Regions from separate parts of the Homo sapiens genome. Here region 2 is linked to region 1. Evidence: fine-mapped expression QTL. A gene starts in region 1. The other region holds a variant in brackets. All regions are shown on one strand. Distances are between the middles of the regions. Region 1 holds the start of NOL3 (nucleolar protein 3). Region 2 overlaps CES2 (carboxylesterase 2).

The links. PIP is the estimated chance that this variant, and not a neighbour inherited with it, causes the effect. A credible set is the group of variants that fine-mapping cannot tell apart.
Region 2: its variant is the best candidate, but not a certain one, in a credible set for the expression of NOL3 in whole blood (INTERVAL, PIP 0.55).

What each region holds. Positions count from the first base shown.
Region 1 is chr16:67,164,644-67,173,823 of GRCh38, reverse strand. NOL3 (nucleolar protein 3) reads right to left here and starts at 3,286. Exons shown (of 4, transcript NM_001276309.3): 1 at 3,250-3,286. HSF4 (heat shock transcription factor 4) reads right to left here and starts at 9,079. Exons shown (of 13, transcript NM_001374675.1): 1 at 8,890-9,079; 2 at 8,194-8,302; 3 at 7,978-8,105; 4 at 7,754-7,878; 5 at 7,429-7,504; 6 at 7,202-7,266; 7 at 6,602-6,704; 8 at 6,225-6,349; 9 at 5,877-6,104; 10 at 4,888-4,993; 11 at 4,723-4,788; 12 at 4,476-4,545; 13 at 3,883-4,193. The coding sequence starts at 9,012. The coding sequence ends at 4,039. RefSeq lists enhancers at 1-319, 3,540-3,689, 4,180-4,229 and silencers at 1,236-1,399, 3,040-3,329, 8,975-9,180, 8,964-9,180.
Region 2 is chr16:66,940,100-66,956,809 of GRCh38, reverse strand. It overlaps CES2 (carboxylesterase 2), which reads right to left. Exons shown (of 12, transcript NM_001365405.1): 4 at 16,455-16,588; 5 at 16,115-16,373; 6 at 15,588-15,686; 7 at 15,164-15,304; 8 at 14,962-15,042; 9 at 14,561-14,705; 10 at 14,025-14,162; 11 at 13,439-13,511; 12 at 11,714-12,971. The coding sequence ends at 12,785. It overlaps LOC107984881 (a long non-coding RNA gene), which reads left to right and starts at 2,611. Exons shown (of 4, transcript XR_007065090.1): 1 at 2,611-2,687; 2 at 3,903-4,007; 3 at 5,999-6,169; 4 at 7,879-7,930. RefSeq lists silencers at 4,958-5,158, 5,158-5,358, 6,204-6,253 and enhancers at 14,494-15,693, 15,753-16,252. The variant C/T (reference allele first, on the strand shown) is at 13,279.

The DNA.
Region 1 (9,180 bases):
CCCCGGCAAATCCGAGGCGAGTTCAGACCCCGTTTATCCAAACTAAGGTCTTTCTCTCAAATCTGCTTCCCCACCTAACCAGGCAGAAAAACCTAGGATTGATGCTGATACTCCACACCCAGCTTGCAGACAAGTCCTTTCCAGTCTGACTGCTGAATATTTCTCTCACCATCCTCACCACTTACTAAGTCCAGCCTTCTGCCTCCTGCTTTGGCCCTGCAGAACCCAGGATCAGAGCTCCCTGCTTCCATACTCTATCCTCCAGTCCCCTCTGAACCCAGAGCACAAAGTGCTGAGAGCCTCCCTGCCCCTCTCCCCTTACCTTGACCCTGATATCCAACTTTCCAGGACAAGCCCCGCCTCTACACCCTCCCACCAACACCACCACCATAGTGCAACCCCAATGTAGTCTCCTGGCCCTTCCTGGTCCCCTGATTCCTGAGCAGAGATACCAGAATCTTCTTCAGGCCTAGCTCTGACCAAGATCTCTTGACATCACCTGAGACCCACCTGTCTCCCTACTGAAGCCCTAACTCCTAATGTGACTGTCTCTCTGCTGACCCACCTGGCTCCCTGCTGACCTGGGAATTACCTACAGACATTTGTTGTTTGATCTTGAAGTACCCAAGGCCTAGCTCATACAGGATACCGACAAATACTTGCCGAACTTGGACTGATTTTCCTCCATGGATCGCACTATTTTGAGAGACTTTTTTTTTTTTTTTTTTGAGATGGAGTCTCGCTGTTGCCCAAGCTGGAGTGCAGTGGCGCAATCTTGGCTCACTGCAACCTCCGCCTCCCAGGCTCAAGTGATTCTCGTGCCCAGCCTTTTTTTTTTTTTTTTTTTTTAGAGGTGGGGTCTTGCTATATATATTTTTTGTATTTATTTATTTTAGTGGAGACGGGGTTTCACTATGTTGGCCAGGCTGGTCTTGAACTCCTGACCTCGTGATCCACCTGCCTTGGCCTCCCAAAGTGCTGGGATTACAGGCGTGAGCCACCGCGCCTGTCCTGGTCTTGCTATATTGATCAGGCTGGTCTCGAACTGCTGGCCTCAAGCAATCCTCCCATCTCAGCCTTCCAAAGTGCTGGGATTACCAGCACTTTGTGAACCACCATGTGAACCACCATGCCTGGCTCTTGAGAGACTATCTCTACCAACAGCGGCTATTAGGGAGAGTCAATCTGCTTTATCCATTTTTTTTTTTTTTTTTTGACAGAGTCTCACTCTGTTGCCCAGGCTGGAGTGCAGTGGCACATTCTCTCATCACTGCAACCTCTGCCTCCTGAGTTCAAGCGATTCTTCTGCCTCAGCCTCCCGAGTAGCTGAGATTACAGGTGCCCGCACCACGCTCAGCTAATTTTTTGTGTTTTTAGTTGAGACGGGGTTTCACTATGTTGGCTAGGCTGGTCTCGAACTCCTGACCTCGTGATCCACCCACCTTGGCCTCCCAAAGTGTTGGGATTACAGGCATGAGCCACCGCACCCAGCTGCTTTGTCCATTTATTGTCAACCAAGGATTATGGCCCATTCCTGTGAGTGGCCTGACCCAGCCAGCAAGACCCCCGGCATTAGGAGGCAAAGACATCAGGCCTTGAACCATGCCCTCAGCCCACCCCCACCCTGATAATAACTTCTTCTCCTCCCCGCCTTGGCTTTGTTCACACGGCATCCTCCCATCTCTTCTTCCCTTTGCTGTCCCTCCTCTGCCTCCTTCTCTGGCTCTAGGAGGCTCGGCCTTCTCTGGGAGAGAGGATTTAGTCCTAGCCGCCATCCTGCCTCCCAGGTCTTTCTCAGTACCCTCTGGTGTCACACTATACCTCCCCCGTCACTTCACACCCTGGCTTCCTCCCATTGAAGCCCTTCCCCACCAGGCCGAGACCAGGACTACCCCCTGCCCCTCCATCTCCCTTTATGTCCCGTATGTGATGAATCTTGCTTCTCCACTTCTCAGTGAGTCTCCATCAGCTCCTGCCTTGCCACCCCACCATCGTCACCTCATGTCCTGTAACAGTCCCTCTGAGCCCCTCTCACTCCCATTCTGCCAGGCCCGATAGCACAGTGACTTTGACAACCCTCTGGGCTAGGATTGCTGTTCCCATTTTACAGATGAGGAGACAGGCTCAGAGATTCAGTGGTAAAACTGGAATCTTACTTGCTCCAGCCTGAACTATGAGGAACTGAACTATATTTTCCTGTCTAGCAGAATTCCATCCTAAATACCTATCTACCTCCCCCCCACACCCCACTGCCCATCAGAGACAACCCAAAATATCTGGTCTGGCTACTCTAGCCTCCTCCCACCACCCTGGACAGCCAGGCCCTTCCCAGCTTCCCTCCACCAGCCAGGGATCGGAGAACTCACTATGCCTCTGGCACCTCGGAGCCTTTGCTGATGCTGATCGCTAAGACTGGAATCCTTTTCTCCTCCCTCCGCTCCGTGGACCTATCCATCGTCCAGGACTCAAATGTTCCCTTGTCTACACCAATGCCTAAGTGTCCCAAGGGCTGGTGGTTCCTTCTTCTGTGTACCGTGAACAACACATGCCCTCACTAGTGCATTAACTGACATCATTGCACTGTGTACACGCAGACTCTCCGCTTTCTTCAACTGAGTTTTCCAGAGTGTCCCTCCAATCGGTGGGCAAAGGAAGGGAGAGGGGGACAGCACCTACTCGGGACAGACACAGGGAGGGTGCAGATTGGATTGGCCCCTCCTTCTCTCCAACCTAAGTTGTTTTCATGTTAGCCGCCTCCTCCTATGACCCCAAGTCCTGCCCTTTATCCTGTCTGGGGGTAGAGACTCCAGCTGGTCTGGGCCCTCCCTTTGAGGCTCACACAGCTCTCAATACCGAAGTTATTTAGCGGCCAGTCCTTCGAGGGTGACAGGTCCGATTCTTCCCAGAGAGCCAGGTGGCGGGGCACGGAGCTGGGTCCCAGCCCCCAACCCCACCTCGCTGCGCGGGCTCTTTGGCCAGGAAGCCAGGGTCTTGGGACAGTGAAGAGCCTTTGCGCATGTGCGACTGCACGGATTTTCCCCCCCCGCCCCTTACCTCCCTCCACCCAGTCCCAGAGCTTGAGAGTCCTGCGGCAGGGCGGGGCCCACAGTCCTACCCACCCCGCCCCCCCGACCCCCGAGCGCCGCAGCGGGTGGTGGGGCGCTGATTCTGCCCAATCTCGGTTTCCCTTCCCTCCCACAGCCGGGAGTGGGGCTCCCGGTCTGGCCCGTTTTGGGCGTCCCCACTCACGGGTCAAGCCTCGGCGGGGCAGGAGATGACGGTGCAGAAAGGGCCGGGCAGGGTGGGGGTGGGTGCAGCAGCTGCGGCGGGGGCGGGGCGGCCAGGGCTGCTGGGAATAGGGAGGGTGAGGGTTCTTCCCCGGGCACTAGGAGCCACACCGCGGAGGCCGCGCGCTGGCTGGGGACGTGCATGTAGTCAGCTTTCCCTCCCCACCCGGGGCGCACCAGGAGATGAGGCCAGGAGGGGGCAGTTCGGCCCGCGGCCCCACACGTCCAGCGCCCACTCAGGGCCTGCCAATTTCCAGGTGCTTTCCATCTATCTTGTCATCGACCCCTCTTCTCTGCCTGTCACAGAGGAAGTTCAGAGAAGGATACCAACTCACCAGGATCACAGAACGCATGCATTGCAGAGCTGAGCGCGACCCAGAAGCCCCCGCTTCCCAGAGATTGCAGCGGCCCCGCGCCAGCCCTGGACCCGGGCCTAAGCAAGGGAGCTAGGCACCGGATCCCCAAGCACCTCCACCCTCCTGGGGTTCCTCTATTAAAAACCTAGTATCTGGACGCTTCTACAAATGCAAAATCACCCCCCACCCATAACTCCTGTGCTCCCTGGTCGATAGAGAAAAGAGACCAGAAACAGAAAAAAAAAAAACGGAGTTTATGTGCAGGGATAGTCGGGGTAGTGGAGAGAGGCCATTTAGTAGTGGGGGCTTCGCTCACCCCCGATAGGGGGCGCCAGGAAGCCAAGAAGGATGTGCAGCGGCGGACTGGTTCCAAGCCCCTTCAGAGGCGCGGGGTCTTAGGGGGAGGGACTGGCTTCCGGGCCCAAGTAGGAGGCAGTCCGGCTCTCAGGAGTGCTATAAATGGTTAAAGCCCCAGGCAGGCCCAGGGCTGGGCCTCCCAAGGCCGCCTGGACATCCAGCAGGAGTGGGGCCCCGAGCGTGGGGTCCTTCCCTAGGAGAAGTGGGACTGCGCTCACCAGGGGAAATGTTCCCCCTCCTTTCTTCAGGGAAGGAGAGCCCTGCCCGCCTGCCTTCTGCTCAGTTAGGATAAAACATCCATTCTTAACCTCCCCACTCTCGCCCAATGGTGAGGGCATGGGTGGCTCAAGGAACGCTCTGCAGTGCAGCCTGAACTCAGGATTTCCCTGCAAATTGCAGATTGCCCCCTCACTCAATCAAGGTAGCTCAGCCCAATCACGGCGTCCTCCCAGGTAGGAGTCATCACAACCATTACCTGGGCTTGGAGAATTTAACCCCTTGACCGCCAGCTCAGGCTCACCCCGCTCTGGAACCAAGGGCTGCATCTGCGTGAGAACCGCAGGGAGCAGCTGGGGAGGGGACCTAGCAGCTGAGGGGGACAGCTGGGAAATCACTGTGACAATTCTTCTAGAGACACGGCTTTGGCTCACAGAGAACAGCTATGGACCAGAGGGCTTGACTCAGCCACCCCTGGCCTCTGCCCTCCCCGACCCACTTCTTACCAAGGACAGCTCCATGTCCAAGTCCATCAGGGTCCATTCTCGCCCTTGGAGACTGGGGCCCAGCACCTGAGGAGAGCTCTGGGTCAGTGGTGCCCTCCCCAGGCTCCACAGAGAGCTAGACCCCACCAGGTCTCATGCCCCTGTTTCAGCAGAAGGGGTACTCACATCTAGAGGCCCTGCAGGTTCCACACTTTCTTGAGGGGGCTGAAGCAGCATCGGAGGCAGCAGACTCTCTGGGCTCCTGTCCCCGCTTTCCAGGCCCAGAGGCCCCCTGTGCAGACAGAACTGCTTTTGGCCTGCAGTGTCCACCCCGCATTAAGTTCCCAAGGAACCCAGATGCATCAAGATTTTAATCCCCCAATCTTTAGAAAATGATAGGAGAGGATCCCCATCCTCTCTCCACCCCCAACCTCCCCACTCCTGCCATAAATGGCACAGAGAAAGTGCCTCTGCTTCCTACCTGGGACCTGAAGTTTGGGTGGTGGAGCTGGGGCTTTGGGACCCTTCCCCTCCCTATGCAAGTATCAATATCCATGCTTCTTTCTCTTCTTTCTTTATTTCTTTCTTTCTTCCTTTCTTTTTTCTTTCTCTCTCTCTCTCTCTTTCCTTCTTTCTTTCTTTTCTTTTTTTTGGAGACAGTTTCACTATGTCACCCACTATGTCACTATGGCACTGTCTTGGCTAACTGCAGCCTCCACCTCCCAAGTTCAAGCGACTGTCCTGCCTCAGCCTCCTGAGTAGCTGGGACTACAGGCAAACGCCACCACACCCAGCTAATTTTTGTATTTTTAGCAGAGGCGGGGGGTTTCACCATGTTGGCCAGGCTGGTGTTGAACTCCTGACCTCAAGTGATCTGCCCGCCTCAGCCTCCCAAAGTGCTGGGATTACATGCATGAGCCACCTCATAGCCACCAATGCTTCTTAAACTATTGTGTACTTTGCAGTCACCCCAGGGAACTCATTTCATATGTAGGTTCCTAAGCCCTTCCGCAGATGCTGAGTGCCCTGACTGGGAGGCTCTGCTTTCCACAGAACTCTGATGCTGGGGCCAAGAAATCAGGTGAGTATCATGGAGTCAAATGGCTAGGAAGCTTTGTGGGCTGGTAAGGGCTGTTCTATCACAGGGCTCATGGGCCAGCTGGGGCTCTGCTCACCTGTCAGGTATCTCCCTGGGATCCCCTGGTTCAGGCTGTTGGGCATTCCTGGGCCCCTCGGGGCTGAAGCTCCCTTTCCCTTCCAGGATGGCCTGCACCACAGCCACAGGCAGTGGCGGGGGGGCTGTCACGCAGAAGTCACACTCGTTTGGGGCCAGGGCCAGCCCGGCCTCGCCATCCCCCCCTGGACTGGCCGGCTCTTCTTTGAGCAGTGCCAGGCCCTTCTCCCTGCACCAGAGAAAAGCTTCAACCAGACCCTGGCACTGACTTCTCCCTCTACCCCTACAGCCATCTGGGCTGCCAGGCCCTCCCCCACAGGCCCCTCAGGGGCAGCCCTGTCCCCCTTACCTCCTGCCATCACTGGAGGGAGAAAGCCTGGTCCCCTCAGGGGATGGAGAGTCTTCTGGGATGTCAGAGATGATGGGGCCCCTGGCCCTGTGAGGGCTAAGGCCCAAATTTGTCTCTGGGAGAGGCTGTAAGTAGAAGGCTAGGCCCAGCCCTTGGCCTGTAGGCACAGGGAGAGCCAGAACCCCACCAACACCCACCTGGGCCAGGTCTAAGGGAGAAGGTTTGAGGGAGGAGGCTCAGTCCATGCTGGAGGGCCTGGGTCTGGTTGGGGGGAAGGCTGGCTTCCATCTTCTCTTCCTTTTAGGGGATGGGGAGAAGGAACAGGCTCTCCATAAGCCCAGCCATGCCCTTGGGAAGGGGGAAGAAGACAAACCTACCGACTGGATGAAGTAGGGGTCCTGCAGAAGGGCACCAGGTAGAGGGCAGGTGTTGAACTTGGCAGGTGTTGGGCATGAGCTCCCCTCATCCAGCATCAGGGACCTGTGTGGTCGATCAGGGCACAGGCAGGGGTGGGGCAGGGTCAGCCCCCATGCACCTCGGCCTGCACTTCCCTCCCTCCCTCAGGCCCCAGCAGCCAAGTCAGCAGAGCTGAGGCCTGTTGCTAGGGTGTCAGTCACATGCTGGAGGTGGAAGGGGCTCCCCCTAGAGATGGGGGCCCTTTGTGGGTAGAGAGGGGAGGGAGGGAACCTGGTTTGAGCCCCAGGGTCTCAGCTGTTGGGAAGCCTTGCCGGAGGGGGAAGGGGCTGCTGGGGTAGGAATTTGGGAATAAGGTCCTGGAATGGGAGGATCTGGGAGTGGGGATACCAGGTGGCAGAGTTGGGGGGAAGTGGATCCTAGATGGGGTGAGGAAGCCTGTAGCGCAGGGGGAGGAATGAGGATTCCCGGTGAAGGAGTTTCCAGAGGAGAAGGGGTCCTTGCAAGGGGACTTCTGGGGGGTCTTGGAAGTGGGTGTGGGCCTTCTTGGCTTTCTCACTCACAGCTTTCTCTTGCCTCCTGCATTGCTCGGCCCCGCCTGAAGTGGCCCAAAGAGACACTGGATCAGCTGAAGAGAAAGCAAAGGTTTAATTCATACTTTGGACACAGCCCCCCCACCCCCGCACTTCCAGGTGAGGGAGGAAGGCTTAACAGGGGCGCCGGGGGACTGGGCGGTGGAATGGGGTGTCGAGGAGTGGGAGGGAGAAGCGAGGCTTGGGGAGAGGAACACCTTGCCAATGACCCGGTGCTGCTGACCGTGGCTCTGCCGAAGTGTCACCACCTCCCGCCACAAGATCTCGTTCTGCCTGAGGAAGGGGTGGGAGGGTGCTGAGGCATCTGAGAGTTCGCCCAGTCACCACCCCCCACAGAATGGCGAGGCTGGGGACCCAGGAGACCACCCCGCTGACTGGCCATCCCAGAGATCGCCCATAAGTCTAGATGGAGGCGCCAAGGCAGGAGAGAGGAAGGGGCTGCCCAGAACTGCTGGCCGGCCAGTTATGGTCTCATCCCGAACCCCCCACCCCTGTCCCCTCTTTCCCCGCCCGCCCCCGCACTGCCTGAGCTCCCGCAGCCGCGCCTCGGTGCTCTCCTGCACTCCCCGCAAAGCCTGCACCTCGCCCAGTAGTCGACCCAGGTCCTCCGGGCGCCAGCGGCCGTCGTCGCCGCGCAGCGCGGGCACCTGCAGGCGGGAGGCACCGTCGGGACTGGGTCGCAGGAGCAAGGCAGGCAGTCCCAGCACCCCTCCTCCTCTTTGCTCATTCCCGCAGGCCGCCCCCACCTTGCGCCGCACGCGCTCCAGTAGCTGCTCGCGGCCGCGCACGAAGCTCGGGTGCTGGAACTCGACGTGGTCGCGCTCCGGCCTAAGCAGGCCGCCCTGCTCGATGCTCACCACCTTCCGAAAACCGTCTGGGGAGTGGGGCGTGGGGGCGTGGGTCGCCCCATCCCCGGCACCGAGTCCCCCATCCCCGCTCCCCGCCCGGCCGTAGGGACTCACACATGTTGAGTTGGCGCACGAAGCTCGCCATGTTGCTATGCTTGAAATACTGGGGCAGCACTTCCTTGGCGAAACGGCTCTGGTCGCTTACGAGGAAACTGGTCCCGCTCTACCAAGAACGCCGCCCGCCCACCGTGCGGGCGGAGACCAGGAGGGTGAGCGGTGCCCGCTCACGGCCAGTCCTGCGCTCCAGCGCGCGCACACACTCATGCTCACTCTTGGGTCCAGGCCTGCCGCTTACGGGGATATGGGTCGAGGCCAGGCCAGAACGGGCTCCGAGGCCTAGCCTGGAGCGACCACAGTGAGTCCCTACCCCCAGCCAGACCCTGACTCCATACTCAGTTCTCAGAAAGGAGAGGCTGACGGGGTTCCCAGCCCCGCAATGTGACCCTGAGCTAGACCAGCCCTTCCCATCTCCCGGCCTCTGTTTTCCCATCTGTCGGATGGGGTAGGGTGGGAACTAAATGGCCTCGAAGGTCCCTCGGACTCTAGGTCTTCAGAAGGCAGGCTCCTAACCCTTCTTCGGCCGCAGAGGAAACCCCCCTCTCGCACACCCCCTCCAAGGTGAACTTCTCTGAATGGCCAAATCCGGGGATCCACGGCCCAGTCTCAGGAGGGGGTTGGGCGGGCATGGGTGTTCACTGACGTGGAGGGACCCCGGGACCACAGGGGGAATCGAGGGGCCCCGGCCCTCACCGGGCTCCAGCGGATCAGGTGGTCTGTGCCTGGGTCCCCCACCAGCGCCCATAGCTTGCCGAGGAAGGCAGGCACGGGGCTGGGGCCTGGCTCCGTGGGCAGCGCAGCTGGCGCTTCCTGCATGGTGCAGTCTCGGCCCGGCTCTGCGCTCGGGCCCGGCCGCTGCGGGCTCGTCAAAGCCGCGGAAAGTGCTGCGTTTGCCGCCCGCTCCGCCCTACTCCGCCCCGGGGCGCCGGGTCAGGCGGGGGCCACGTGCAAGCCCGCGGGGCGGGGCTCGGACAGCGGCCGAGG
Region 2 (16,710 bases), 220 kb after region 1:
GGTTCAAGCAATTCCTGTGCCTCAGCCTCTGAAGAAGCTGGGATTACAGGCATGCGCCACCATGCCCGGCTAATCTTTGTATTTTTAGTAGAGACGGGGTTTTACCATGTTGGCCAGGCTGGTCTCAAACTCCTGACTTCAGGTGATCCATCTGCCTCGGCCTCCCAAAGTGCTAGGATTACAGGCGTGAGCCACTGCGCCCAGCCTAGTGTAGATCTTTAAATAGGGGGCGTTTTCTTTAAAAGTGAAACACACCCTTGCCATATGACCCAGAATGGCATTATATGGTGAGTGTCCAATCTCAGCTATCTACCCCAAAGAAATGAAAGGTTTGTCTGAAAATGTTCACAGCAGCTTTATAAAAATACCCCAAAAATGGAAGTCACTCAAATGTGCACCCACTGATTGTAGGGAAAAGAAAGAGAGATCAGACTGTTACTGTGTCTGTGTAGAAAGGGAAGATATAAGAAATTTCATTTTGACCTGTACCCTGAACAATTGCTTTGCCCTGAGATGCTGTTAATCTGTAACTTTGCCCCAGCCAATTTGCCCCAACCTCTTTGCCCCAACCTTGAGCTCACAAAAACATGTGTTGTATGGAATCAAGGTTTAAGGGATCTAGGGCTGTGCAGGACGTGCCTTGTTAACAAAATGTTTACAAGCAGTATGCTTGGTAAAAGTCATCACCATTCTCTAGTCTCAATAAACCAGGGGCACAACGCACTGCGAAAAGCTGCTGGGACCTCTGCCTTGGAAAGCCGGGTATTGTCCAAGGTTTCTCCCCGCCTGTGATAGTCTGAAATATGGCCTCTTGGGATGAGAAAGTCCTGACCGTCCCCCAGCCCGACACCCATAAGGGGTCTGTGCTGAGGAGGATTAGTAAAAGAGGAAGGCCTCTTGCAGTTGAGATAAGAGGAAGGCCTCTGTCTCCTGCCTGCCCCTGGGAACGGAATGTCTCGGTATAAAACCCGATTGTACATTTGCTCAATTCTGAGATAGGAAAAAAAACGCCCTGTGGCGGGAGGCAAGACATGTTGGCAGCAATGCTGCTTTGTTATGTTTTACTCCACTGAGATGTTTGGGCAGAGAGAAACATAAATCTGGCCTACGTGCACATCCAGGCATACTACCTCCCCTCGAACTTAATTATGACACAGATTCTTTTGCTCACATGTTTTCTTGCTGACCTTCTCCCCACTATCACCCTGCTCTTCTGCCGCATTCCTCTTGCTGAGATGGTGAAAATAATAATCAATAAAAAGTGAGGGAACTCAGAGACCGGTGCCGGTGCAGGTCCTCCATATGCTGAGCGCCAGTCTCCTGGGCCCACTTTTCTTTCTCTATACTTTGTCTCTGTGTCTTATTTCTTTTCTCAGTCTCTCATCCCACCTGATGAAATATACCCACAGGTGTGGAGGGGCAGGCCACCCCTACACTGATGAATTAATAAAGTTGCGTATATTGGCGAGGCACACCGGCTCACTTCTATAATCCCGGCACTTTGGGAGGCCGAGGCGGGAGGATTGTTTAAGCCCAGGAGTTCAAGACCAGCCTGAGCAACATAGCAAGATCCTGTCTCTAAAGAAAAAGAAAGGGAGTATATTTATACATGGAATACCACTCCACGATAAAAGAAAAGAACTACTGGTTGAATTTCAAAAACACAATTGACAGAAGCCAATCGCAAGTTATTTCATTTATATAATTAGTACTATCATATTAATTTATAATTTGTATTATTTCATTCATATTCTAGAAAATGCAAACTATAGCAACAGAAAGCAACTCGATGGTTGCTTAGGAGCATGGATCAGGACGATTGACTGCAAAAGGGCTTGAGGGAATTTTGGAGTGATAGAAATATTGTAAAACTCCACGTGGTGGTGTTTGCATGTCTTATACATTTACTCAACGTGATCAAACTGCACACTGAAAATGGGTGAGTTTAGGCCAAGCACAGTGGTTCACATCTGCCTGTAATCCTACCAATTTGGGAGGCCTAGATGGAAAGATCACTTGATCCTAGGAGTTGGAGACCAGCTGGGTAACCTAGTGAGACTTCGCCTCTACCAAAAATAAAAAATAAAAAAATTTAAGTTCTCCAGCCATGGTGGCATGTGCCTGTGGTCCTGGCTACTTGGGAGGCTGAGGTGGGGGATGGCTTGAGCCCAGGAGGTGGACGCTGCAGTGAGCTGTGATTGTGCCACTGCATTCCAGCCTAGGTGACAGAACGAGACCTTGCCTCAGAAAAAAAAAAAAAAAAAGGGTGGGGGGAGGTAAATTTAATTGTAAGTTATTTCACTATAAAGCTGTTAAAAAATAACTATTAAGTCTAAACAGTAATCCTGGGAATGTATATTGGGAAACTATATTGTACCTCTGCAGAACTGAAAAACATACAGAGACAGGCATGCAGCCGGTGTTCAATAAATGCTTTCAGAATGTAGTGGAAACATTATGCACCAGTGTTTATTGAAAGGAAAGTCTCCCTGCTCTCTCAAGTTCAAGTCAGCCCAGGTTTAACATTATCCTTGTCTGCCACCTGGTGGCCCAAATGGGCAAAGTGGGTGTCCTGGTCTTTCGCTCCAAACTTCAAAAAGCTGTAGTTGGGCTTAAAGGCCGTGGATGGAAAGAAGGGAGACTTTCGCCCTGGAAATCCGGTGCCCCGAGAGGCAAGTTGGTCAGAGGTAGGGGTATAAGGGGATTATTAGGGTCTATGGGACTAGAATACAGCCTCTTAATGACAGAGGGAATATACTTTGGTGAAACCAAGAGGCCGATTGAACACAATTGGCCACCTTTGCACACTGAGATAAAATATGAGGAGGATTTTTGCGAAGCCAGGAAGGAGAAAAGTTTAGGGACAACAATGAGGTAAGTAGGAAAATAATCATATGGACACACATGGTGAGTTCGGGGATGCTCAGGGGGCTGAAAGGTTGGCAAGGGAATTCTGAAAGGCCAGAGAACATCTCCCTGGGTGGAGAGGCTCCTGGGAGCCAGGGAACAGGAATCTCTTTTCTTAGATATGCCTGGACCTTTGGACCCTCAATCCCACTTCCGGGGCACACCCCACAGGTAAACATCTTCGCGAGTGTGCTACGATCCTGTGAGTAGGGGCCTTACAGTGTCTGTAGAACCACTGAGAAGAAGAGCAACCTTCAGGAGACGGCCACTGAGGAATCGGCTTGGCTTTCCTGGCAACTGTACAGGAGGCCCAGGCTCAGGGGCCTGTGGACAAGCCCAGTCTTGCTTCTTACAAAAATGGGTTGAGTCACCTCTGCAGGACACAGATAGGCGAGGAGGTGGCTTGTTTTTGTTTGTTTGTTTTTGTTTTTGTTTTTAGATTGAGTCTTGCTCTGTCACCCAGGCTGGAGTATAGTGGCACAATCTCAGCTTACTATGATCTCCGCCTCCAGGGTTCAAGCAATTCTCCTGGCTCAGCCTCCCAAGTAGCTGGGATTACAGGGATGTGCCACCACGCTTGGCTAATTTTTGTGTTTAGTAAAGACAGGGTTTCACCTTGTTGGCCAGGCTGGTCTCGAAATCCTGACCTCAGGTGATCCACCTGGCTTGGCCTCCCAAAGTGCTAGGATTACAGGCATGAACCACCGCACCTGGCCTGTAAAGGTGGCTTGTTTTAAATGTCAATGATAGACGACATTTAGTGGGACAAAAGGGGAGTATAGGAACTTTTACATTTTCAGTAGTTGGTGACCTTGGTGGCTGAAATCTGGGAGCTCTAAGTGCTATGGTTTAAATGTTTGTATTGCCTCAAAAATTTGTATGGTGAAACCTAATCCCCAATGTGATGGTGTCAAGAGGTGGGGACTTCAGGAGGTGAAGGGGATTAGTGTCCTTACAAAAGAGGCCAGATGGAGCTTGTTTTCCCTTTCCTCCAGGGGAGCACACAATGAGAGGCTGCCATCTATTAACCAGAGAACAAGTCCTTGCCAGACAGCAAATCTGCTGACACCTTGATCCTGGACTTCTAAGCCTCTATAACTGTAAGCAATACATTTCTGTCACATGAAGGCACCCAGTTTATAACATCAATCTGTAAAATTTTTTTTTAAGTTTTATATCAGTATAGGAAACTTTTTTTTTTGAGACAGGGTCTTGCTGTATTGCCCAGGCTGGAGTGTAGTGGCACAATCACGACTCACTGCAGCTCTGACCTCCCAGGCTCAAGTGATCTGCCCGCCTCAGCCTACTGAGTAACTGAGACTACAGGTGCGTGCCACCACATCCAGCCAATTTTTGAATTTTTTTTTTGTAGAGATGGCGTTTCTCCAAGCTGCCTAGGCTAGCGTCAAAGTCCTGGGCTCAAGTTCAGGAGGCCCACCTCGGCATCCAAAAGTGCGGGGATTATGGGCATGAGCCACCGTGCCTGGCCGAAACCGGTAGTATTTATTTATTTTTTTTTTTGAGACAGACCCTCGCTCTGTCACCCAGACTGGAGTGCAGTAGTGCGATCTTGGCTCACTGCAACCTCCGCTTCCTGAGTTCAAGTGATTCTTGTGTCTCAGCCTCCTGAATATGTAGGATTATAGGTGTGCACCACCAAGCCTAGCTAATTTTTGTATTTTTAGTAGAGACAGGGGTTCACCGTGTTGGCTAGGCTGGTCTCAAACTCTGGGCCAGCTACTCAGCTACTCAGGAGGCTAAGGCAGAAGGAATTCGACGCTGCATGAGCTATGATCCCGCCTTTGCACTCTAGTCTAGGCAACAAAGCAAGACCCAGTCTCCAGAAAAAACATAGTGTGACTGCTGTGGGGATCAGGGAGGGAGGAAGTGATGGAAAATTGCCTAACAGAGAAAATCAGTCCTCTTAATCGATAAAGAATTTCTACAAACAAAGAATATGTCATGTATACAACAGAAAAAGTAGCATAAGAATGTGTTCAGAATAAGCACTACAAATCAGTGTCTCTCAAATAAACGAAGAGATCTTTAAGTCATTCATAGTAAGAGAAATGCACATTGAATTCTCACTGTGATGTCAACCACTCATTTTGTGGTATCCCAACAAGCAAGATAATCAGACGTTACATATTTTCTATCAGAAGTATGCAGCACCACATGTGAAGTGGTCCTCCAAAAAACAAAACAAAATAAAACCTAAAACCCAAATCTGATTATGCCTCTAGAATATAAATACAAGTTTACACAGTAGACAGGGGATAGAAGAACTGTTAAAAGACACCACCCGGATGCAATCAGCAAAACCTAAATGGTGGGATCCTCTCCAGAACAAATAAACTGGTTTCTTCCACATGCAACAAAATTTAGAAAGAAAATTAAAGAGAGGCAGATGGTAAATCTGAAGACTGAAAGAGATTCAAGAAACACATAAAAATGACAGATAATAATAAGTGTTGGTAAGGATATGGAAAACTTGGAACTTTCATACATTGCCAGGGGAAAGGAAAATGGTGCAGCTGCTTTGGAAAACAGTCTGGCAGTTTTTCAGGGGATTAAACATGGAGTTGCCATATGACTCAGCAATTCCACTCCTAACTATAAAGCCAAGACAATTGGTGGGGCATGGAGGCTCACGCCTGTAATCCAAGCACTTTAAGAAGTCAAGGTGGGTGGATCACCTGAGGTCAGGAGTTTGAAACCAGCCTGGCTGACATGGTGAAACCCTATCTCTACTAAAAATACAAAACTTAGCCAGGCGTGGTGGCATGTGCCTGTAATTCTAGCTACTTGGGAGCTGAGGCATGAGGATCCCTTGAACCCAAGAGGCAGAGGTTGCAGTGAGCCTGGGCAACAGAGTGAGACTCCATCTCAAAAAAAAAAAAAAAAGAGAAAAAAGAAATATCTACTTATTTGCAAAGTATGAACGTTATTTGAATCCTGATTTAAAAAAAAACTTGTATTAATACAAGTATCATTTATAAATACTAAAGAACACGACCATATATTTGATTAAATTGAGAACATATTATGTTGTGGAAATACACACATACATATATATGTTCCTTTTCTTTAGTAGGACATGATGAAAACTTTACAGATGATATGATGTCTGGGATTTGTTTCAAATAATGATGCAAGAGAGAGGTGGCCATCCGGAAAACACCAGGTTATATTCAACCTGAGAAAGCTGATTTAAAACAGAAACAAAAACAAGATCTTTGTTATTGCTGAAGACGGACAATGGGTATGTTGGATTTCTTATACTACTGTTTCTACCTCAGACTTGGCTCATCCTTTGGTGCTGTGCAGCCCTTGAGCAGGCTTGACCCTCTCTGTGCCTCAGGGAGGTTCACCTGCTGTTCTTATTCCCACCAGCTCCCACCTGCCTGGCACTTTCCCTTTTGGAACCTCAGGTTCTGCTTCTGTAGGATTTGGGAAATCTGAGCCCAGTTTCATAATAAAAAGTCAGAAAACAGGTCAGTCGCAGTGGGTGACTTTGGTAATCCTAGCACTTTGGGAGGCCGAGGTGGGTGGATCACTTGAGGTTAGGAGTTCGAGACCAGCCTAGCCAACATGGTGAAAGCCTGTCTCTACCAAAATATATAATATATTTGTCAGACACACATATGTTTATAATATAATATAATATACATCTAAATATTGGACTCCGTCTGTTGCCCAGGCTGGAGTGCAGTGGTGTGATTGCAGCTCACTGCAGCCCCCACCTCCTGGGCTTGAGATCCCCCCATCTCAACTTCCCAAGTACTTGGGAACACAGTTGTGTGCCACCATGCCTGAGAGTCCTTTTTTTTTTTTTTTTTTTTTTTTTGGTAGAGACAAGTCTTGTTGCCCAAGCTGGTCTCTAACTCCTAGCCTCATGTGATCCTCCCATCTCTGCCTCACACAGTGCTGGGATAACAGGTGTGAGCCACTGTGTCTGGCCCAAAATATTTCAAAAGGTAGCCATCTGTGAGGCCAGGCAGATCTTCCTGCTGGGCTCCTGGTGAATTCTAGAATGTGATCAAGGGCAGGCATGGGAGGAAGCCCTGCAGGAGTGCACCATGGGGCGAATATGGACTCCACCTGGGCAGATTAAATTGGGAAAGGGTCGGGAGAGGCAGTCAGATCATACACTTAGGAGAGTTTCAGGTGAGAGGACCAAAGGCCAAAACACTCCCGGAGCTTCGAAAAGGGCCTGGAGAAGCCTGGCAGGCACACAGAGCCTTCACCTTTGCCCTGGAAGCCAAGTTGTGCCCTTGCCCAGGATGAGGTAAATGGCGTGAGGGACACCACGAGCTCTTTGGCTCTTGTTTCTGGAGACAGATTTTTGTTTTTTCACCCAGGCTGGAGTGCAATAGTGTGATGAAGGCTCACTGCAGCCTCAACCTCCCCTACTAAAGTGATCTCCCACCTCAGCCTCCCAAGAAGCTGGGACTAGAGGTCACAGGCCACCACAGCCCATTAATTTCTTTTAATTATTTTGTACACTCTGAGTCTATGTTGCCCAGGCTGGCCTCCAACTCCTGGGATCAAGCGATTCTCCCCCTTGGCCTTCCAAAATGCTGGGATTAAAGGAGTGAGCCAATCGCACCCAGCCACTGCGGCCTCTTAGATCTGCTTTAGGATTTGGAGCCTGGGGGCTTCTGTTCCCCAAGGACCACTAACCTTGTCTGAGGCCCCTTTGGAGGGCTCAGCGCGCCCCCTTGGCCAAGGACGCCACACATTGAGAGCCAGCTGCTGCCAGAAGCTATTACTGTTATTACCGGCCGGCAGCACAGGCTACAGCCACAATCGTAAGAGGGAAATGGACTGAATCCCCACACCCCAATCCCTCACTCACTCCGACCCGAGGCTGTCTACCCGGCCTGGCATGTCCCGGCGCTCCTGGGGCCCCTGTACTCCGCTGGTTCCTCGCTGTGGTGTCCCGCAGCCCGACCATTTCTGTGCTTCTAGGAGCCCACCCTGGGCGGCAGGGAGGCGTTGCGTGGGGCTCACGAGTTCCACGCTGTCATCTCCACCAGCTCCTACCTCCCAGGCGCCTGCCCTCCCGCACTGTCAGGTTCTGCCTCCGCAGCATTTGGCAGATCTGAGCCCGGTCCCTGTCACCCCTCCGCGGGAGCCTCATAGTGACCCTGGAGGAGAAGCAGCAGGAGCCCACAGGCCACCGCGCTCGGCCGCGCGTGAAGTCTGTGCAGCCGCATGGTCGGCTCGCTGGTCTCGGTTCTCTGCCGACGGACACGCTGCTGTTCACCCAGAGGCTGCCCCGGGTCGGTCCAGCCGTGGATCCAGTGCCTTGCCCAGCCTCGGAGTTTGGACTGGGCAGGGAGTCGGCGGGGTGCGCTGACTTGGGCCGGGAAAGGTGGGTTGGTAGGAGAGCAGGACTGAACAGTCATAGGTGGGTGGGGATCTAGTGGTAGGCAGGCCCGGGCACGGCCACTTCCCTTCTGCCCGGGCCCCTTTGGCATCCTCAGAAGGGGCTGCGCGGCTTCTGTAGTCCTCCGCGATCCAGAGAATCCTCTCCTCAAACCTGTCGTTGTCCACAGGCCCGATGAGCGCGCTGGGGGATCGATAGGAGGGGGCAATAAACTAGAATTGGAGATCCCAAGAGGGCTTCTCTGAGGAGGTGCACGTTCAGGATCCCCACAGTTGGAGAAATGGGAAGGAACTTGATCGGGGTGAAGGAACCGCTTGAGCAAAGGCAGGGAGGCGTGACGGCGCCCTTCATTCTGGAAGCTCCTCCTTGCTTTCAGGACTCAGTTTCCTGGGTTCCCCTTCACGGCCCCTCATCTCCTTACAGTCCAGGGTCTGAGGGTCTCCGCGGTCCCCTCCCTACTCAGTCACGCCATTCTTTTGAAACGTACACGTGACCGCGGCACTTCTTAAGGAGCGCCCCCCTTTTCCTCGGTGGCTTTCAGTTTCCTCACCTCCCGCGGAGACCAGGGCCATGGTCATTTATCCTCTTGACGAACATTTCACGAGCGCCTGCCGCTCCGAGCGATGGGGACCCGGCACTCCCAGGCCTCTGTTGCAGCAGGGGAGGCAGGCGCGTCACCTGGAGGTCCCGAGACACTGGGAGCCCTGCCAGGCCAGAGGCGACCAACTGGTCTGGGAACGGGAGTGTACTATGGTCCTGTAACTATGGGCCTTACAGTGTCTGAAGCCCGGAGGTGGAGGCTGCAGTGATCTGTGATTGCACTACTGCATTCTAGCCTGGGTGACAGGACTAGACCTTGTCTCAAAAAAAAAAGGGGGAGCAGGGGGTAAATTGTAAGTTATTTCACAATAAAGCTGTTAAAAAAAGAACTATTAAGTCTAAACAGTAATCCTGGGAACTGACTTTGGGAAGGTATATTGTACATCTGCAGAACTGAAAAACATACAGAGGCATGCATGCAGCTGGTGCACAATAAACGCTTTCAGAATGTAGTGGGAACATTATGCACCAATCAGTGTTCATTGAAAGGAAAGTCTCCTCCCTCTCTCAAGTTCAAGTCATTCCAGGCTTAATATTATCCTTGTCTGCCACCTGGTGGCCAAAATGGGCAATGTGGGTGTCCTGGTCTTTCACCCCAAACTTCAAAAGGCTCTGTAATTGGACTTACGGGCCCTGGCTGGAAAGAAGGGAGACTTTCCCCATGGAAAACGGGTGCCCTGAGAGGCAAGTTGATCAGCAGTAGGGGCATAAGGGGATTATTAGGGTTTATGGGACAGAAATATAGCCTCTTAATGACAGAGAGAATATACTTTGGTGAAACCAAGAGGCCGATTGAACACAATTGGCCACCTTTGCACACTGAGATAAAATATGAGGTTTTTTGCAGAGCGGGGAAGGAGAAAAGTCTAGGGACAACAATGAGGTAAGTAGGAAAAGTAATCGTGTGGACACACATGGTGAATTTGGGGATGCTCAGGGGGTTGAAAGGTTGGCAGGGAAATTCTGAAACGTGAGAGGACATTTCCCTGGATGGAGAGGCCCCTGGTAGCCAGCGGACAGGAATCTCTTAGCAGGTGTGCTAATATCCTGTGAGTATGGGCCTTACAGTGTCTGTAGAACCACTGAGAAGAAGAGCAACCTTCAGGAGACGGGCGACTGAGGAAGCAGCTTGGCTTTCCTGGCCACTGTGCAGGAGGCCCAGGCTCAGGGGCCTATGGACAAGCCCGGTCTGGCTTCTGACAAAAGTGGGGTTAGGCACCTCTGCAGGACATCGATAGTTGGGTGGGTGGCTTGTTTTATTTTTTATTTTTGAGATAATGTCTCGTGCTGTCGCCCAGGCTGGAGTATAGTGCTGTGATCTCAGCTCACTGCAACCTCTGCCTCCCAGGTTCAAGTGATTCTCTTACCTTAGCCTCCTGAGTAGCTGGGATTACAGACACCTGCCACCACACCCGTCTAATTTTTGTATTTTAGTAGAGATGGGGTTTCACTATGTTGGCCAGGCTGGTCTTGAACTCCTGACCTCAGGTCATACCCCACCTTGGCCTCCCAAAGTGCTGGGATTACAGGTGTGAGCCACCGCACCTGGCCTGAGGTTGCCATCTATTAACCAGAGAACAAGTCCTTGCCAGACACCAAATCTGCTGGCACCTTGATCCTCGATGTCCAAGCCTCGAGAACTGTAAGCAATACATTTCTGTCATTATAAGGCACCCAGTTTATAATATTAACCTGTAGTATTTTAAGTTTTATATCAGTATTGGAAGCCCTATTTTTTTGAGGCAGGGTCTTGCTGTGTTGCCCAGGCTGGAGTGTAGTGGTGCAATCACGACTCACTGCAGCTCTGACCTCCCAGGCTCAAGTGATCTGCCCGCCTCAGCCTCCTGAGTAACTGAGACTATAGGTGTGTGCCACCACATCCAAATAATTTTTCTATTTTTTTGTAGAGATGACATTTCTCCATGCTGCCTAGGCTGGTCTGGAACTCCTGGGCTCAAGTTCAGGAGTCCCACCTCGGCCTCCAATAGTGCTGGGATTACAGGCATGAGCCACTGCACCCGGCCTAACCGGTAATATTTATTTATTTGTTTATTTATTTATTTACTTATTTTTGAGGTAGGGTCTCTGTCGCCCAGACTGGAGTGCAGTGGTGCAATCTCAGCTCACTGCAACTTCTACCTCCTGGGTTCATGTTATACTCGTGTCTCAGCCTCCCGAGTAGCTGATATTCTAGGTGTGCACCACAGAGCCTGGCTAATTTTTGTCTTTTTAGTAGAGACAGCGTTTCACCATGTTGGCCAGGCTGGTCTCAAACTCCTGGGGTCAAGTGATCCACCCACCTCGGCCTCCCAAAGTGTTGTGATGATGGGTGTGGGCCACTGCACCGGGTCTAATCGGTAGTATTTTTGCTATAGCAACTGAATGGACTAAAACACTAGGAATTCCAGTAACCAGGTTTCCTATTGGCCACTCACAGATTTTTTTTGTTTTTTGTTTTTGTTTCTTTGTTTGTTTGTTTGAGACTGAGTCTCGTCCTGTGGCCCAGGCAGGAGTGCCGTGGTGCAATCTCATCTCACTGCAACCTCTGCCTCCCGGGTTCAAGGGATTCTCCTGCCTCAGCCTCCCTAGTAGCTGGGACTACAGGCGTGTGCCACTGCACCAGGCTAATTTTTTGTACTTTTAGTAGAGACGGAGTTTCACCATGCTAGCCAGGATGGTCTCGATCTCCTGATGTGGTGATCCGCCTACCTTGGCCTCCCAAAATGCTGGGATTACAGGTGTGAGCCACCGCACCCGGCCTGGCCACTCACAGATGTAAGAGCACTTGGGGCTTGGGGAGAGGCAGACAGAGGCTTTTTTTAGAATTTATTTTTATTCTTTCAGACCTCTCAGGGATGAACGGACATAGGCTTCTAACACTTAGGTGTGGGCAACATTCTTCGAAGCACCTCCCTCAAAGTGGAAAAGGCCTGGGGGCTCAGACGAGAGAAGAGAGAAGGCAGGGAGAAGGTGGAGGTGAGGAAGGGAGGAGGGGGCCCAGGGCTCAGTGGGGTGTTGGGGAGGGTGGGATTCCACCGGGGTTTGCCCATCCACAGCTCAGTGGGGGGATCTATGGAGTGTGTCTAGCAAGAGAGGACCCATGGCAGGCTTGGTAACTAACATCATGCAGTAGCTTCTTCTATTCTCTCTTATTTTTTTGGAAACGGAGTCTCGCTCTTGTTGCCCAGGCTGGAGTACAGTGGCACAATCTCAGCTCACTGCAACCTCTGCCTCCCAGGTTCAAGTAATTCTCCTGCCTCAGCCTCCTGAGTAGCTGGGATCACAGGTGGGCACCACCACTGTGCCCGTCTGATTTTTGTATTTTTCATAGAGATGGGGTTTCACCACGTTGGGCAGGCTGGTCTCAAACTCCTGTCCTCAGGTGTTCTGCTCACCTTGACCTCCCAAAAGTGCTGGGATTAGGGGCATGAGCCACAGTGCCTGGCCTATTATTCTCTTTTTATTTTTATTTTTCTCATATTTTTCCCTTATATTTTGTTTTCTTTGCTTTTTAAAAATCTTTTTTACTCCTCACTGACTTGAAGCTCAAAACTTTCCTATTTAGCTTCTAATCACACACTCTCTCTTTTTTTTTTTTTTTTTTGAGAAGGGGTCTCACTGTGTTGCCCTGGCTGGTCGGTCTCAAACCTCTGGCCTCAAGCCATCCTCCCATCTCATCCTTCCCAATAGCTGGGATTACAAGTATGGGCCATCATGCCTGAGTAAATTCTTAATAAATGCTTTCTGAATGGATGGACGGAAGTATGAATGAATGGCGAAGTGAATGAAGGAATCAACTTCTTTCTCCTTAGTGGGTGTGTGTGGGCACAGCAGGCTGACCCTCGCCTGTCAGCGAACCCACCCCCTCCTCCCCGGCACAGGGAGCTACAGCTCTGTGTGTCTCTCTTCAGGCTCCTCGAGCTCCTGGATCTTTTGGGGCAGCGCCTTCTTCCAGAACTGGAGCCTGTGGGCCTTCAGAGCCCGGCCCACCGCAGGCTGTAGGTTCAGCTGCAGGTATTGCTCCTCCTGGTCGAACAGCGGCCAGTGTGGCAGACCCTCGCCATTGGGGTTCCTGTAGACATGCCATCCCAGCAGGGCAGTATGAGGGTCACTCTGGGCCCCCGAAGCCCAGACCTGAGCACCCTGAGTCTGGTCAGGCAAGGCAGCCAAGCAGGCCAGGTGGGCTTGGGGAATGAGTGGGGAGGCTTCCAGAAACAGGAAATAAGCTCCCTCTGGCTAGTGTCAGCACCAGTGGGGGTTGGGGGAGGGCAGCCAGCTCTGTTGTGTCCCTCTCTCTGAGAGGGAGGCCCTGACGGTGGCACAGCACTGGCGCCCACCCTCCAGGTAGACTGGAGAGATAGAGCGTGTCCACTGCCCCA[C/T]GCACCCCCACCCTGTCTGAGTGGGTCCCGGAGCTGGGGAAGGGGCCATCATGTGATGAAGGATGCGGGTGTGCTCATGAGGTCACCCCAGACTAGGAGAGCACTGGATGGGCACAAGTCCCCCAATCGGGGAGGTTGAGGCAGGGGTGTGCTGTCTCACCCATTTCTCGCAAAGTTGGCCCAGTACTTCATCATCTTCCTGCTTAGCTGCTCCTCTTCCTCAGTGAATTTAACTGCCAAGAGGAAGAGGACATGTGTCTTCATCAGGATGTCCAACCTCAGCATCCCAGGTGGAGCTCGTCCTTGGCCCCCGAGACCTCGGTCCCCAGTCCTGCTTCTCCGCTTTTTCTTCCACTGCCCTCAGAAGCCAGCCCTCCCCTTTTCCAAACTTTCCCTGTAGACCAGGCTCTGGCTGACTCCATCCTGGGCTCCTTCATGGCCCCAAAGGCCCCTTCTTCCTTCTATCTCTGGGAGTCACTGAAGAAATAAACATGTCCCTGAAACACCTGTTCTGCACCAGGCCAGACACCCATGGCTGGGGAGAGGCAGAGGGAGCACAGCTCACAGTCTGAAGAGTCGTGAATTCTAATCCTGGTGCAGCTTTTGGAGCTATAAAACCTTGGACACCTGATCTCATCCTCTCTCTGAGCCTCAGTTTCCTTATCTGGGCAGTGAGGACAATCAATCATCGCTCAGAGACCCAGCCAGAATCCCAGCCCACCTCCCGGGAAAGGAAGAAGACTCACTGTAGTTGCCCCCAAAGAAACTTCTGAAAACAAAAGGAAGCTCATCACCATGGTCTGCCTTCATGTGCGGTGGCCTGATGTTCTTGAGCCAGCTGGGCTGATGCTGGAACTCGTAGAAGTACACAGGGGCCCGGGAACCTGTGGGGTGGACAGCCCATGACACGGTGGCCCCTCCCCCTGAAGACTTCTTGCCTCACCCATGGTGATAAGATACCTAGGTCCAAAGCTGGCTGGAATCTGGACAATGGGGTGTGGAGCCCCAGGCTGGGGCAGGAATAGAGGAAAGGACTTGCGATTCTTTGCTGTGTCATCTTGGGCAAGTCACTGAAGGTCCCTAACTTCAATTTGCTCGTCTGTGAAATGGGGGAAATGTCGGATTCTTGGGCTAGCCATGAGGATTTACTGCAATGATGGATGTCAAGTGTCCCCGGAGCCCAATAAACATGAGTGCTGACCCGGACAGCAGCAGGTCTCACCTGGGACCCACAGCCCTGAGCTGTACCCTGCCCGCCAGGCTTTGGTCCAAATATACTCACACTGAAAATGTGCTACTTGGAGTGCAGGGATCACAAACATGGAGTCCGCCATCATCTCCTGGAACTGCGCTTGGAGGGTCTGGGGATCCCCATTGTCCCCAATGTACTCCTCCCTCAGCAGGTCACCAAATGTAGGAGGCAACATCTACCCCAGGTGGATCAGGAAGAGGCAGGTTAGACTGGATGCCAGGGGCAGGGAGGAGGTGGTCTCGGGCTTGGGGATGGCACAGGAAGGGGGAGCAAAGGCGAGGCTCTGAGGTGACCCCACCCCTAAACACACACACCCAGGCCTTTGCTCATGGGGGTCACTACATAGGAAGGGTATCTGGGGGTTGAATTTCCTCTGTCTCAGGACAGGAGAGGAGCCCGTCTCCATTGGCGAGGGACCCCAGGAGCCTTACCAGCAGCGTTAACATTTTCTGCAGAGCAGCCTGGGAGGCCTCTCTGTCCATTTCCTTCTGGGTATCATAGATCCTCATGACCTGGATGGCCAGGAGAGAGTCTGTAGCTGGGGATGGGATGAGCCTGGAGCTATGAAGCCCTGAACACCCCCCACTACCAGATGGGCTCCCCAGGCACTTGTGGGCTTGGGTTGGGGCTCACCTTGGGGATGAGCCAGCCGAATTCATTGTTGTTGACACCAACAATGCTAGGGACAGGCTGAAAGTCGGCAGAGGCCAGCAGCTCCTGGGGGTGCCTGGGCAGGAAGACCCCATCCACCACTCCGGGGATCATCTTGAAAGGCTGAGGGGAAATGTAAGGTCAGGGAACAAGGTCAGGTCCCAGACATCTTCCGATGCCCTCTGAGTACCTTCCACTCCTTCCCAGTTTATCCCTGGATGCTCATACCCACCCCAGGAGATTACTGTTTGGCTCAGCATGCACCGACCTTCAGTCCCGACCCAGGGCTATGACACTCAGGCATGCAGATGAGGTAATGTGCCCAGGGAATATGACGGCCGTGCAGGCCTGCCAGCCCCATGCCTATTGCACCCCTTCCTCTACACCCACATCCATTTAGACCAACCTTGTTAATTGCAAGAATCTCCTCTTTACTCTTGCCCCGCAGGCAGCCCACCAGGGCCTCAGAGTCAACTTGGTCACAGGCAGACAGGTTGGCCACCACCTGTAAAGGGACCAGGCAGGGGCTGGCTCATCCTTCCAGGTAGAGGAGAGGAGTTTGCCCAAGGCCCTGGCCAAGAACAGGGGTACCCCAAATCTCAGAGGGTACTTCGTATGAGTTCCTGCAGTTCTGACACTGTTCCAACTCAGAAGTCCCAGACACAGGGGCCATCCCATCCGCCTAGATGATTCTCCTCATGGTGGGGATCCCTAGGGTGACAACTTTGCACAGGAGCCACAGAACAAGCTCGGCCTCTGCAATGGCAGAAGGATGTGAATTCTGACCCTGGAGCCCCCCAGCAATTCCACGGTAGGCAGCAGCTCCTGGAGCATGCTCCCGATGGCCCTTGTCATCCCCGTTTAACAGACAGAGGCTCTGAGGGATATGAGGGGAGGGAGCAGGCCTAGGCCTCTTCAGCTGAGGGCACTCACCGTGGAGATGACATCAGCTGAGCTGGCAATGAGGCCGGGCAGGAGGGCCACGCCACTCTCCATGATGGCTCCGTGGAAGAGTCCTTGGGATATGGGGGACACAACAAGCGAAGACACACTCGTGCCACCCGCAGACTCGCCAAAAATGGTGACACGGTCAGGGTTGCCTCCAAAGTGGGCGATATTCTGCTGGACCCAGCGTAGTGCAGCCACTTGGTCCAGGTAGCCCCAGTTGCCGGTTGCGTGCTTGTCTCCAGTGCTGAGAAGTAGCAGGGACAGGGATCACAGGGCTGTCCTGGCCCCGCTCAGCCCGGGTTGCCCAGCCCAGCCCTAGTCTCACCTGAAGAAGCCCAGGACACCCAGGCGGTACTGGATGATGACCACCACCACGTTCTCCAAGGCAGCCAGCATGGAACCATCATACAAGGAAGCCATGCCAAAAACAAGCGCACCACCGTGGATCCACACCATCACCTGGGGAAATCAAGGCAGCTACCATGATGCTCCCACCCAGCCCAAACCCCACCAGGGCCACTACCTAGACCAACCAGTGCTTTGCCTCTGTCTACCTCCCCATTAGATCTCCAGCACAAATT